Linked DNA regions of Homo sapiens. Changing the gene in region 1 together with any one later gene gives a genetic interaction. Each region holds a gene or a part of one and is shown on either strand. Other genes may lie near its edges.

Region 1 (3,500 bases):
TTCTAGTACAGCACATCTTCCAACAGCTGTCTAATAAAGCATGCATAGGTGAATTTTTAAAGAACGTGTACATCTAAAACTGACTTTGTCCTACCTCTAAACTTAACTGATAGTTTGGCTGGGTAGAGAATTCAAGGTTGAGGATAATTTTGGAGGCCTTGCTCTAATAAATTATAGTTTTGTGGCTACTATTGAGAAGCATGATGCAATTTTGATTCTGGATATTGTCTTTGTCTCTGGTGTCCTAAAATTACATGGTTGTTTATTGAAGGGAGTCTCTTCTCCACAGTGCTGCCCATTTAATCTGGAATAAAAAGTGTCCTTTTCTTAGAAATAGTCTTGCCCTATTTATCTGATCATTTTGTTTTCTGCTTTCAATGTACCATTTCTGGAACTCCTTCTTTTTGATGTTGGACATCCTGTAATTGTCCTTTAATTTTCTTATCTTTTCTATTTCCAATTATTTATGTTCAATATTATTTATTATATTCTGGGAAATTTCTTCAACTTTAGATTATATCTATGAAAATTGCTATTATATTTTTAATTTTCAAAAACACCCTTTATTTTCAAATGTTACTTTTTATAAGACTTTTCTGCTTTTAAAGGCACAAACATTTTTTCTTCTCTCTCTGGGGATGTTAAAGATTGCACACATCACAATTTAGAGAACTTACTCCTGAGTTGCTTTTTTATGTTTGTTTGCTTTGGTCTCTGTATTTCATAGTAGAATTTTTCCTCGTATAGCTAGTGATTCTTAGTAGATATTCTTTGCTTCTTTTTAAAGAAATATTCCTTATAATGTCTTTTCTAAGAGAGTATAATTTCCCCTTATAAAAACTAGAGTGAGCCTAATGTTGGTTTTGGCAAAAGGTGATGTCTGAGTTACGGTGAGTTTCTAGAAGAATCACATTATTTCTGAGTTAACAAGATGGATGAGGTAGAAGAGACAGGAGATCATCAAGGTTTGTTACATGAGGAAACATCATCTTCCTACTGAAATTCTTAACCCTCTTCCCTTCTCTCTGTCACTTTTCTGGCTTCTACTAACCTCTTTAGGCTTTCACTTCCTCTCTCTTATCTTCTGTATTTATTGCTTTGCGTAGTTTCTATTGTAGACAAGAGGAAGTTCAAAGATTAGGGGGAGAGACAGTATCTTCCAAACATGAAGAATGCTTTGAAAAAGAAAAACTGTAAATTTAAGGGAGAAACAAAATAGGATCAGGGATCTATAAAAGTAAGATGAAAGTACTGGGAGTGAGAACTTGCAAGATAAGTTCTCATGTAACTAAAAAAATGACACAAAACTGACACAAAATAGTAACATATCAAAACATCAAGAACAAGCTCCATTTTTTTTCATCCATTAAAATGGGAGAAATAATTATTCTGACCTATCTCAAAGGACTACTTTCAGAGGTAATTGAAATTATGAATGTGGAAAGCATTTTAGGTTGGATTTAAATTTTTTTACAGCCACATCCATAATAATAAGCACATATATAGCACTTATAAAAATAAGAAGGACACTTGGACTTCATCATTTTTCAGCTGTTATGCAATAAGAAGACCCATGAAAAAAAGGCAAGGACTGAGATGGTAATTGATGTAAGTTGTTTTGTCTTTTTCTTTTTTTTTTGAGACAGGATCTCGTTCTGTTGCCTTACTATAGCCGCAACCTCCCAGACTCAATCAATCCTCCTTCCTCAGCCTCCTGTGTAGCTGGGACTAAAGGCACATGCTACCTCACCCAGTTAATTTTTGTATTTTTTTTATAGATGGGGTCTCGCCATATTGCCCAGGCTGGTATCAAACTCGTGGGCTCAAGTATCCTCCCACCTCAGCCTCCCAACATACTGGGATTACAGGTATGAGCCACCACACCTGCCCTTTGTTTGTCTTTTTAAAGAAAGAAAAATAAGAATTAGCAACTTTACTTGTATCTCAATTTTTAATCTGGTTTACAAAATTTTATTTTTTCATCCAATACTAAGTTTACATTGAGCTAAATAGAATGTCTGAGTTGTGACATCTTTTATTCTAAGATTTTAAAATAACAATCTATGACTTTCCTGCCCATTTATTTGAAAAATGACAAGTTCTATCTTGGCAAGCCACTAATCATAATGATGTATCTTATTTCCTTCTAAATTACTGTGGCTTTTGTACCTATAACTTCTTGAAGGAACAGCAAAGATATTTCCGTAGAATTTTTTTTTTCAGTTTTAAAGCATCTTCTGTCTTAGTTGTTGTGACCACACATATTAATCATATGCAATGATATAATTTTTAGATACATTTTTATAAAAAGGCCTAGATTATCATAATCTGTTTAGCACTCTGTCAACTATATATGAGTCTGTGACAGAATTACAACTTGGTCATTCTGTATCTGAAAAGTCAGAATGTATCTGATACATTTTTGTTTGTTTTTGATTACTTTAGGAATATTACAACAGCAGGCACAATGAATTTTTATTGTTTTAGGCATATTACAAATGCAGGCCCAATGGATTCAGCACCCCTTGCATGAGTAGTAAGACACAGTAAAAGCTGCTTGTATGTTGTTGACAGAACAAAACGCATGCTTTGCTGCTCTCCTTATCTTTCTTAACTGCAGCCTGGAGAAGCAATAAAAGATTCTACTTGTATTTTTATGTCACAAGTGGTGTTGCTTACTCCCTGCCTCTCCTATGCAAAAGCAAAATGTGTAAAACAACTTTTTAAGTAACAGATATTTGAAAGCAATTCAGGAAAGATACTAGATGTTACTAGATTATATTACAAACCTCTCTGCAAATGGTTTTTATAAAACTATGTTGTAGAATTTTACATTAATAGCAAATGAAACCTAGCAAAATCATCTGTTAAAAAGAGGAACAACTCAGCCCATAGCTCCATAGCACTACTTCAACAAAAGACATTTTCATTTCAGCTAAAGGGCACACTTTTCAAATTCGGCTCTTCTATTTATGAAAATATTTATTAAGAAATTTTCTTCACCCATTTAGCCACATTTAGCATGGTTAAAAGATTAGTAACCTACATTTTCATGTCTGTATTTTTACAAGGTGTTTATCACAACATATAAATACTGGTTCTAAGAAAGAGTAATTAGCCACCACCCCTATGGCACTCAAATGTAGATTAGGTCATGAAAACCATGTTTTTACATACCTCATTTTCCTGGTCCTTTTAGTATTTGTTGCCCCAGATAGTGAGAGATGGAATAATCCATCTCTATTGAAAATGCCAGCAATGCAAATTAGCTTCTGAGTAGAGTGGATTGCATGCTAGAGTCCACAGCATGTGTAGTAATTCTCTCTACTTCCTGTTCAACTATGATACACTTTTATAACATGGAACTGCTTTTATACAAACTAAGCTCCATATTAAGTTCTTAGCTTAACTTTGACTTTGTGCTTTAAAAATCCTTACAAATATTTTAAAGCGCAATTCTATTACAGCAGAAGTTCTAAAATTGTAAATGGAATGTAACT
Region 2 (3,500 bases), on another chromosome or scaffold:
GAGACTCTTTTGCCTATGAAAAGAGGAGTGAAAAGTGGGAAGCACTTTGCCTTATGGTTTGGATGCCAGCTCAGCTGCAGGAGAATAGAGGACCAGATAGGGTTCTAAGGTTTCCAACTCCAGATGCTGGCTCCCAGATGGCATCTCTGGACCTGCCTGGGGCCCAGGGGAACTTGCTTGCTGTCCTGAAGGGATGGATAAAAGCCTGACTGGCTTTGCCACCTGCTCATTATAGAGCCCTAGAACTTTGAGCCAACACAGGAGGTAGCCAGGTAGGGGTTACACTGGGCCTTGGGTGAGATCCAGTGCTATGCTGGTTTCAGGTCTGGTCTAGTGTAGTTCCAGTGGTGGTAGCCACAAAAGTGCTTGTGTCACCACTCCCCCAACTACAAGAGGCTTGGAGCACAGAATCAGAGACTCGTTTGTTTGGGACAAAGTAAGGGAAGAGAACAAGAGTCTCTGCTTGGTAATCCAGAGAATTCTTCTAGACCTTATCTAAGACCACAAAGGTAGTACCTCTGCAAGTCTGTAAGAACCACAGCATTATCGGGCTTGGGGTGCCCCCTAATGTAGATATGGCTGCAATGACCAAAACTGGATCACAACAGCCAACTCCCTTCAAATATCTGGAAAGCCTTTCTAAGACAGGTACAAAAGAGTTCAGATTGTGAAGACTACGATAAATACCTTCAATGCCCAGACACCAATGAACACCCACAAGCATCAAGACCATCCAGGAAAACATGGCCTTGAAAAACAAACTAAATAAGGCACCAGGGACCAAATCCTGAAGAAACATAGATATGTGACCTTTCAGAGAGGGAATTCAAAAGAGCTATTTTGAGGAAATGCAAAGAAGTTCAAGATAACACAAAGAAGGAATTCAGAATCCTATCAGATAAAGTTAACAAAGAGGTTGAAACAATTAAAAGGAATCAAGCAGAAATTCTGGGGTTGAAAAATGCAGCTGACATACTGAGTCTCTTAATAGAAGTCATCAAGCAGAAGAAAGAATTGGTAAGCTTAAAGACAGGCTATTTGAAAATACACTGTCAACAGAGACAAAAGAAAAAAGAATGAAAAACAATGAAGCATGCCTATAAGATCTAAATAATAGTTTCAAAAGGGCAAATCTAACAGTTATTGGCCTTAAGAAGGAGGCAGAGAGAGATAGGAACAGAACGTTTATTCAAAGGGATGAAACAGAGAACATCCGAATTCTAGACAAAGATATCAATATTCAAGTACAAGAAAGTTATACATCAACCAGATTTAACCCAAAGAAGACTACCATTCAAGGCATTTAATAACCAAACTTCCAAAGGTCAAGGATAAAGAAAGGATCCTAAAAGCAGCAAAAGAAAAAATAAATAACATACCATGGAGCTCCAATATGTCTGACAGCAGACTTTTCAGTGGAAACATTACAGGCCAAAAGAGAGTGGTATGACATAAACTACTGAGGGAAAAAAAACTTTTACCCTAGAATAGTATATCCAGTGAAAACATCCTTCAAGCTTAAAGAAGAAATAAAGACTTTCCCAGACAAACAAAAGCTGAGAGATTTCATCAACATCAGACCTGTTCTACAAGAAATGCTAAGGGGAATCCTTCAATTTGAAGGAAAAAAGGTGTTAATGGGCAATTAAAAAATGATCTGAAGGTACCTCACTGGTCATACTAAGCATACAAAAAACCACATAATTTTATAACACTGTAATTGTGGTATGTAACCTATTGATATCTTAAGTAAAAGACTAAAAGATGAACCGATCAAAAATAACTACAACTTTTCAAGACATACTTGGTACCATAAGATATAAATAGAAATAACAGAAAGTTAAAAAGTTGGGGGGACAAAGTACAGAGTATTTATTAGACTTCTTTTTGATTGCATGTTTGTTTATGCAATCGGTGCCAAATTGTCATCAGTTTAAAATAACGAGCTATAAGTTATTTGCAAGCCTCATGATAATCTCAAATCAAAAAACATACAATGAATACACAAAAAATAAAAAGCAAGAAATTAAAACAAACCACCAGAGAAAATCACCTTCACTAAAAGGAAAATAGAAAGGAAGGAAAGAAGGAAGAGAAGACCACAAAATAACCAGAAAACAAATAACAAAATGGCAGGAGTAAGATCTTACTTATTATTAATAACACTAAATGTAAACAAACTGAATTCTCCAATCAAAAGACATAGAGTGGCTGAATAGCTAAGAAACACAAAATTCAATGATCTGTTACCTACAAGAAACATACTTCACCTATAAAGACACACAGACTAAAAATAAAGGGATGGAAAAAGATATTTCATGCCAATGAAAACCAAAAAAGAGCAGGAGTAGCTATACCTGTAATAGACAAAATAGATTTCAAGAAAAAAAAACTATAAAAAGGGACAAAGAAGGAGGTGAGGAGCGCCTCTGCCTGGCCGCCCCGTCTGGGAACTGAGGAGTGCCTCTGCCAGGCCGCCCCGTCTGAGAGGTGAGGAGCGCCTCTGCCTGGCAGCTGCCCCGTCTGGGAAGTGAGGAGCATCTCTGCCCAGCCGCCCCGTCTGGGAAATGGGGAGCGCCTCTGCCCGGCTGCCCCGTCTGGGAAGTGGGGAGCGCCTCTGCCCGGCCGCCCCGTCTGGGAGGTGAGGAGCGTCTCTGCCCGGCCGCCCATCGTCTGGGATGTGAGGAGCGCCTCTGCCCGGCCGCCCTTCGTCTGGGAGGTGAGGAGCGCCTCTGCCCGGCCGCCCCGTCTAGGAAGTGAGGAGCGCCTCTGCCCAGCTGCCCTGTCTGGGATGTGAGGAGCCACCTCTGCCCAGCTGCCCCATCTGGGAGGTGAGGAGAGTCTCTGCCTGGCCGCCCCGTCTGGGAAGTGAGGAGCGTCTCTGCCCGGCTGCCCTGTCTGGGAGGTGAGGAGTGCCTCTGCCCGGCCGCCCATCGTCTGGGAAGTGAGGAGCGCCTCTGCCCGGCCGCCCCGTCTGGGAGGTGAGGAGCGCCTCTGCCCGGCCGCCCCGTCTGGGAGGTGAGGAGCGCCTCTGCCCGGCCGCCCCGTCTGGGAGGTGAGAAGCGCCTCTGCCCGGCCGCCCCATCTGGGAAATGAGGAGCGCCTCTGCCCGGCTGCCCGTCGTCTGGGAAGTGGGGAACGCCTCTGCCCGGCCGCCCCATCTGGGAAGTGGGGAGCACCTCTGCCCGGCCACCCCGTCTGGGAAGTGTGGAGCGCCTCTGCCCGGCCACCCCGTCTGGGAAGTGTGGAGCACCTCTGCCCGGCCGCCCCGTCTGGGAAGTGGGGAGTGCCTCTGCCCGGCCGCCCCATCTGGGAAGTGGGGAGCGCCTCTGCCCGGCCGCCCCGTCTGGGAGGTGAGGAGCGCCTCTGCCCGGCCGCCCCGTCTGGGAAGTGAGGAGCGCCTCTGCCCGGCCGCCCCGTCTGGGAAGTGAGGAGTGCCTCTGCCTGGCTGCCCCATCTGGGAGGTGTACCCAACAGCTCCAAAGAGACAGCGACCATCG
Region 3 (3,998 bases), on another chromosome or scaffold:
CAAGGCCTAGTCAAGAAAAGGGTCCAGAGGACCTTAAATAAGTTTGATCAAGAAGATAAGAGTCTTTCGGTTGGGCACAGAGGTTCATGCCTGTAATTGCAGCACTTTGGGAGGCCAAGGCAGGCAGATCACTTGAGGTCAGGAGTTCAAGACCAGCCTGGCCAATATGGTGAAATCCGGTCTGTACTAAAAATGCAAAAATTAGCCAGGTGTGGTGGCATGCTCCTGTAATCCCAGCTACTTGGGAGGCTGAGTCAGGAAAATCCCTTGAACACAGAAGGCAGAGGTTGCAGTGAGCTGAGATCACGCCACTGCACTCCAGCCTAGGTGATAAAGCAAGACTCTGTCTCCAAAAAAAAAAAGAAGACGGTCTTTCTCAAACTACATGAGAGCAGTCAGTTTTTCATGGACTGTGGCATATTCAAGATAAAATACAGTCTCTAAGACAGAGTAAATGCTCATTAATATTTATGAGATGATCAAATGAAGATTAAAAAAAGCCAAGGCTTATAGCGGATAAATAGCTTGTACAAGGTCACATGGAGAGTGGTGTAGCTGGCAATTAGTTCAGGTGTGCAAGATTCCCAAAGTTTCAGCTCTCAGAGATAGTATGATGATCTTGTCCCCAGATCATACCAGAATAAGTTTCAGCTATCTCTTTACTTTAGAAGGGAAATAAATGTGAAATTCAGCCTTAGATACTAATACTTCCATTAGTAGTATAAAGTGTCCTCCAATTCTACCTACAACACCTGCAAGAGCTTCTTCCAGAGTTTTCTCATAGTCACTCTATCTGAAACCTAGCCCATTCCAAAATCAGCACTTTTGTAGCCTTTATTAAAGAATTCAAATGACTCATGGTTTAATTAAGGAACAATTAAAACTTATTAAACCATGGCCAAAAGATTGCTGGCTTGTCTATTGCAAGTTATTGTATGAAATGAAAAATGCCACTGATTATGTACGTAATTGTAGTTCAAAGCAAAGCTACCATCTCATTCTTCATCCATCAGCCTGGGTTTGGGGACTAGCTATTAAAATGGCATGTGCAATTACCTGTCTTTCACAAGAAAAGAATCCCCATGGCTCGCAGACATTTCTGACCTCTTTCTGGAGTTGTACTACTTAGAAATTGCTATTTCACAATTGAGGCAGGAATTCTTGAAAATATATAAGGCAGGATCAAAGTGAGCTGGACGGACACCAGGTCACTTCTTTTCCCTACATCTGACTGCCTTGGCCACTTCAGTACTATGAGAGCAACAGCCATAGTCCTACTCTTGGCTCTGACACTTGCAACCATGTTCAGTGAGTATCTCTGATAATACTGCCCCTGCCCTTGTACTAATAGCTCATGCAGTCTTCTGCCTATGTAATTCTGGGATATATGTAATTCATCACATAAATAATAAGGGAAACTTTTTAAAATGAATCTTTTGCCTCAACCAACGAATTGCTAAATCACATCACCTCAGGGGTAGAGTGGATGTTAACAGTCATCTAAAGTCAAATGCTTATTCATGAGAATACTTTGTATAATTTTTTAGGGAGAGGATCATCCAGACTCTGCTTTGACTTGATGTCACCATTTACAGGGAACTCATTTATTCATAAAACATTACAATCAATTGTTTGGCACCATGGGCTATTCTTCTATTATTGAGTTAAAATTGGCCTCCCTAGAATTTTCAACCACTGTTCCAACATCTGTCATCTACACCTGTCCACAATAGCACATCTCCCTAAATATGACTCACTTATTTCTTCTGTCTCTACTGAGCTCTGGTTATGAAGTAAAAAAGATTAAGACAAAATTCTCATTCATCGTGGCATCTTTTCCATTTCTTTGACTAGATTCCACTCCCACTCCAAAAAAGAAAAAAAATTTAAAGATACGTGTGAAGAGCTTCAACCTTTGATACAATGCTGATACACAGTTGTGAAGAGAGACTTACATTTTTATGACAGGCTGAAAGCTAAAGCATAAATCAAAGATTCTTTTTCTAGTAAGATTAGGTTCTTCCAGAGTTTAATATTGCCTTGTCTTTGTTTTTCTTCCAGGTATAGAATGTGCCAAACAGACGAAACAGATGGTCAGTACACCCATCCTACTTTTATGTAATTTTAAAGTCAATATCAGTAAGGAAATATTTGATACTACACAGTAATTAAATTTCTATATGTTTGAATATTTACTTTATGTGTATGAAAACTGGTTTTATTTCAAAAATTGTAGGCAGATCTTTCTAAAATGGAGAGAGTAGAACAAGGTGGTGAGACACTAGCAACAAATTTAGAAAGGCCTGGTCTTTAATTCCACGTTTTTGATCACGTGGCCATGGGCAACATACTTATAACATTATTCCAAGACTTGAAGCCATAGTATTTGAAAAGAGCTTAGCACAGTGCCTGGCATAGAGTGAAACTCAATAAGGGCAAGTCATGATTCTTATAATTTTTAAATGGGTCACACATATCTTTGTTCTCTGTCTTAGAAAATAAGGACTTTAATTTAGCCTTCCATTCATGACTCAGGTTACAGTAATGAGTATTGTTGAAAAAATCTAGGTGTGGTAGCAAAAATCTTATTTGGTACTCAATTTGAGTTCCACTCTAAACTCTGTTGCTTATTAACTGTGTGACACTGGGGCCTGGGAAATTTATTTTATGTCTTTGAGGCTTCTGTTTTACCTATTAAAGAAAATAATAGGGTTAAGGATATAAATTTTGGAGTCAGATGGGCCTGAGTTCAAGCCATCCTTCATGATTTAGTAGCTGTGAGAGGATGTAAAGGATTACTGAAAGTTACGAGCTTGGTAGTTTCCCATCACATTGTTGAGTATCACATAAACTCTGTCTCCCTGGGATTTGAGCAGGCAAGAAGAGGAAGTGAAATCACGCTGGCATATACTTATCATCAGGCACTGCTGTTTCTATTCTGCTGCACTAGCCTCTAAGGTCCTCCTGCCATTATGCCATGCATACCTATCTTTGCATCAGCTCCACTAACCTTAGCCCGATAACAGGAGGTGTATGGAAGCTGATGAATGAATGAATGAATTAATTAATGAAGCACATCTGGAGGGAAGGAAGAATTCAACTTTAAGTTTGAGTATATTCCAAGCTATTCAAGTAGAGATAGTCCACAATTAATAAAATATCATGCCTAGACCTCTCAGACAAAACAAGCTGGAGATGCAGTCTTTTGTATACAGCTGGAGTTTGTGTAGACCTGAAAGAGAAATCAAAAGATAAAAAATTGTGCCTATTATTCATTCAATATTTTCCATGCAATGTAGTGCTAAGCATTGTACACATATCTTTTCATTTACATATTTTTTACTTCCACCCTACAATGTGGTTATTATCTTTATTTTACAGATAAAAAAACTAAAGTTTAGAGAGGTAAAAAAATTTTTACAGGGTCACATAGAATTTGCATTCAGATGTGTTTGACTTTACTCTATATGCTCTTCTATATGCTCATAGATTTTTTAAAAAATATGAAAAACTTTTCTTGGGAATTGCCTACCTACTTCCACAGGCTTTGCTCTAGGAATTTAGAACACTGGTTCCCAACTACAATATTAAGATATATTCATCTATGTGCTGGTGAAGTATATAACAAGTAAATTGTTACCAATAATTAGTAGTAAAAATCTGTCAGTAATGTACTAGTCATTAAAATGATAGTAGTTATCCCTACATTTCACACTTGCATTCATATTGAGCTTTTTCAGTGAAAGACAGAAATAGTAGGATAATTCCTACAGAAAATATATCACACTTCTGAGTACTCCCATGAGAATGGTTGCATTTGAGAATATGCCATGTATTTTAAGAACTGATACATCAACCAGTATTGTGAGAAAAAAATCTATTTTTACATTAAGGTATGATTTGGGAACCAACTATGGTAAAGATGTTTATCAGTCATGATTTTATATCTGACATAAAACATCTTTACATTTGAAATGTCTTGAAGGGGGTAGATGAGA
Region 4 (3,500 bases), on another chromosome or scaffold:
CTCAGTTACACAAGTTTTTGTATATTGGAAACGTCAGTTGTCAACATTAAATACATAAAAATGCCCTATATAAAAAATAATTAACAGCTATTCCTAGAGTGGTAAAATGTAGCCCAACTAAAAAAAACAAAGTATTTGTAATTAGTTGAAATGTCTTTTACCTTTAAATTCTTTAACCTGTTATTCGTTGAAGGTTACTGATTTTTCTTATTTTAAATAGAAATAAGAATATTTTCTTATTTTAAATAAAAAGCAATTATTTTGAAATTATACCCTTAATAGGGTATAAAGTTTCTTTAATAAGAAACTTTCCTTTAAAGTGTTATAACCTTTTAATGGTTGAAAGTTATTTGTTTTTCTTATTTTAAATAAACAGTAATTATGTTGAAATCATATCCTATCAAAGAAACAACATGTTTACAAGTAAATACATGTATAAGCATTAAATGCTAGCAGGGGTCTCCAATCTTTTGGCTTCCCTGGGCCACACTGGAAGAACCATCTTGGGCCACACATAAAATACACGAACACTAATGATAGCTGATGAGCTAAAAAATAAAATAAAATAAAATAAAATAATAAATAAAATAAAATAAAATAAAATCACAAAATATCTCATCATGTTTTAAGAAAGCTTACAAAATTTGTGTTGGGGCCGCATTCAAAGCCATCCTGGGCTGCATGTGGCCTGTGGGTTGAACAAGCTTGCACTAAGGCAAATAAAAATTGTTAACACTGGGTCAGAAAATTACACAGAAAAATGTTTAGGATGACTCTTATTATGAAACATGATTTACTTCCTAAAATTAGCCACGGTTATGTAGGATGTTTTTTCTATTCACTTCACTCTATACTAAAAACTTCATTCAGTATATATTTACTCAATATTTATCATATGACATACTTATAAATATTATGAGTATATGGCAGGAATGAATCCTTTTTAAAATAAGGTTATACACATACCAATCAGACACTGACTAGAGTTAGGACAAATACTATTCTCATTTGAAATGAGGACTAAAGACTAAACCACTTGCCTTATTGATCCCAGAGCCACAACCAAATATAAAAATCTTAACTCCCATGTTAAATGTTTTTTTCTACAAGCCCACAGTTCCTAAGTCATATTTCAATTTCCATTTAAAAATTTTCAAATTTATATCACAATTCTTACTTGCTTCACTTTTTAATGAAATTCCAATTACTTCAAAGATAATAAACGCTTGCTAACCTAATAAACACAAAATTTATTTCTTCATGTGAATAAATATTTTATTTAAAAGTGAGTCCAAAATAACAGTCCACTATTTAGGTGGTATAAATAAAAATGGTAGATCCCTTCCTCTCTCCTCTCTTCCAACAATTCTAAGGAAAATAATATCAAGCCAAGTGGCAATTAAGTTCAAACTAGAAATACATTTCATTAAGCTACGTATTTATTAGAAATAAATTACATTAGGCTATTTACACAAGTTATTTTATGACTGGCTATGCACATTTCAGAAATAACTCTAAGAAGACAAAGAAAAGGCCAGACAGCTAAAATAATTTATCTTGCCAAAATGAGATGCTAAGTTTAAACTGAGAGATGCTATCTTTCCAAATCATTTAAATACATAGACGCAGTTCAAAAGATTCCTGACTATCCATTAATGGAAAACATAAACGTTAACAAAATTCACAGCATACCTGAATCTTACTCATGCTACCTAAAGATAACATATCTCTAGAATTTCACAGAAGATAGAATCAGTTCAAAATGATGTATTACTGAACCTATAATGATTTATGGACTAGATATTTTTATGACACTTTTCAAAATAGACATACTCACAGACTTTAGTAATGGTAACTGTAGGGCTCCAGATGCCCTCGAGCAGGGCAATATTTTTTTCATAATCACCTAATTTTAATCAATTCAGCTAAGTCTAATGTTTAAAAATTCATGAAAAAATATCTATCTACTCAATAACTTTTGAAAACACAAATATAACTAAGAATGTTTCTAAAAGCAAGGATCTAAACACCTAAGAATGGTCTTCTCAGTTGTTTCAAGTGAATGACTTTGAGTTTAGTATCATTTCTTGAACGACTAAAGGCAAAATGATCTGTTGTGCCAAGTTCTTACATAATCATTTTATCTGTTATCTATTTTGGAAAATTCACCAGCAAATGGCCATCTTTGAACTGCCTAGAAAATTTAACGAAGACATTTATCTTAAATTCGAAAGTATTGATAAGCATTCCTGTTTTAAAATAATAAATAGTTGAAAATAGCACCTTTTAATACATGGCATTCTTTTCTTAAAATGCCAAGTACTATATTTTATGTATTTTATAAAAAATGTGGAAGATTAACCTGTTTCTCTCTGAATGTAGATTTTCACCAAAACATCTCTTAAACAGCAGGGACTCAACACTTAAAAATGAACTAGAAGAGCTGGGCACAGTGGCTCACGCCTGTAATCCCAGCACTTTGGGAGGCGAGGCAGGTGGATTACCTGAGGTCAGGAGTTCGAGACCAGCCTGGCTAACACGGTGAAACCCCGGCTCTACTAAAAATAGAAAAAATTAGCCAGGCTTGGTGGTGGGCGCCTATAATCTCAGCTACTCGGGAGGCTGAGGCAGGAGAACTGCTTGAACCCAGGAGGTGGAGGTTTCAGTGAGCCAAGATCGCGCCATTGCATTCCAGCCTGGGGGACAAGAGCGAGACTTCTCCTCAAAGACAAAAACAAACAAAAAAAGATATAGAACAGTGATCCCTCCAAAGAGCAGTCTTCTTTAATTACAGGGTAGAATATTTTCCTCAATTTTGCCAGACTAGATCAGAGTGGAAGCTTCTCCTCTCAGAAGTATTCCTAAATACAAAATCCTTGCATTAATATTATCAGACAAAAAGTTACTTTCCCTAAATTACACATTCTTTTTTCAATTTTGACTTCCCAGATTTAGTTCTCCACTATAGTAAATTAATGACAAAAGTATAATTTCTTTGAGTGTCCTCTCTCATCTAATTTTTAAGAAGTCTGGGTAAAACACGTTTTTCTACAATCACTGTTATAACTAATGCCGATCTATTTTCTGAGTACTAGAGTACAACCAAAAAATGGCCTGCATTTATTACTCAAATTATACTTGTAATTTTCACCTGCACACAATTTTATATTTGTAAATGTAGACTCATCACTTAAAACTCAGAGAAGCAAAATTTGACATTGAGGGGAAAGTAATTTGTTCACTTATAGCTACTTTTAAAGTTTAGAAACATAAAATTATGTTAAAAGATGAGTTCTATTCACAATTCTAAGTTTACATGTCAAAGTTAACATGCCCAAATAATACTTTCCTGTAATGGAATGACAACCCAAAAAATACACTCAAAATAATAAACACAAAATTCAAAAAGTAACACAAAATAATCCTACCCCAGCAGTTGTTCCCTAATCTACAAAGTCAGACCAAAGGATTTCTCAACTTTCTTTCAATTCTGACTTTTT

The links. Genes that interact genetically often act in the same process or in processes that back each other up.
Region 2: changes in TRPC6 (region 1) and FUT8 together harm fitness less than expected from each alone (positive genetic interaction), as found in Homo sapiens cells (one large-scale study listed by BioGRID).
Region 3: changes in TRPC6 (region 1) and SPINK9 together harm fitness less than expected from each alone (positive genetic interaction), as found in Homo sapiens cells (one large-scale study listed by BioGRID).
Region 4: changes in TRPC6 (region 1) and ALG10B together harm fitness less than expected from each alone (positive genetic interaction), as found in Homo sapiens cells (one large-scale study listed by BioGRID).

The regions. Positions count from the first base shown.
Region 1 is NC_000011.10:101,507,508-101,511,007, forward strand, and holds part of TRPC6 (short transient receptor potential channel 6), read right to left. Parts: intron 3,376-3,500; exon of another isoform or gene 3,183-3,375; coding exon of another isoform or gene 3,178-3,182; intron 1-3,177. UniProt on the Homo sapiens protein: Forms a receptor-activated non-selective calcium permeant cation channel. Probably is operated by a phosphatidylinositol second messenger system activated by receptor tyrosine kinases or G-protein coupled receptors.
Region 2 is NC_000014.9:65,716,730-65,720,229, reverse strand, and holds part of FUT8 (alpha-(1,6)-fucosyltransferase), read right to left. Parts: intron 1-3,500. UniProt on the Homo sapiens protein: Catalyzes the addition of fucose in alpha 1-6 linkage to the first GlcNAc residue, next to the peptide chains in N-glycans.
Region 3 is NC_000005.10:148,334,361-148,338,358, forward strand, and holds the start of SPINK9 (serine protease inhibitor Kazal-type 9 precursor), read left to right. Parts: upstream 1-1,198; 5' UTR 1,199-1,253; coding exon 1,254-1,308; intron 1,309-2,061; coding exon 2,062-2,093; intron 2,094-3,998. UniProt on the Homo sapiens protein: Serine protease inhibitor which specifically inhibits KLK5. May contribute to the regulation of the desquamation process in skin by inhibiting KLK5.
Region 4 is NC_000012.12:38,323,274-38,326,773, reverse strand, and holds part of ALG10B (dol-P-Glc:Glc(2)Man(9)GlcNAc(2)-PP-Dol alpha-1,2-glucosyltransferase), read right to left. Parts: 3' UTR 2,862-3,500; coding exon of another isoform or gene 2,850-2,861; 3' UTR 1-2,849. UniProt on the Homo sapiens protein: Dol-P-Glc:Glc(2)Man(9)GlcNAc(2)-PP-Dol alpha-1,2-glucosyltransferase that operates in the biosynthetic pathway of dolichol-linked oligosaccharides, the glycan precursors employed in protein asparagine (N)-glycosylation.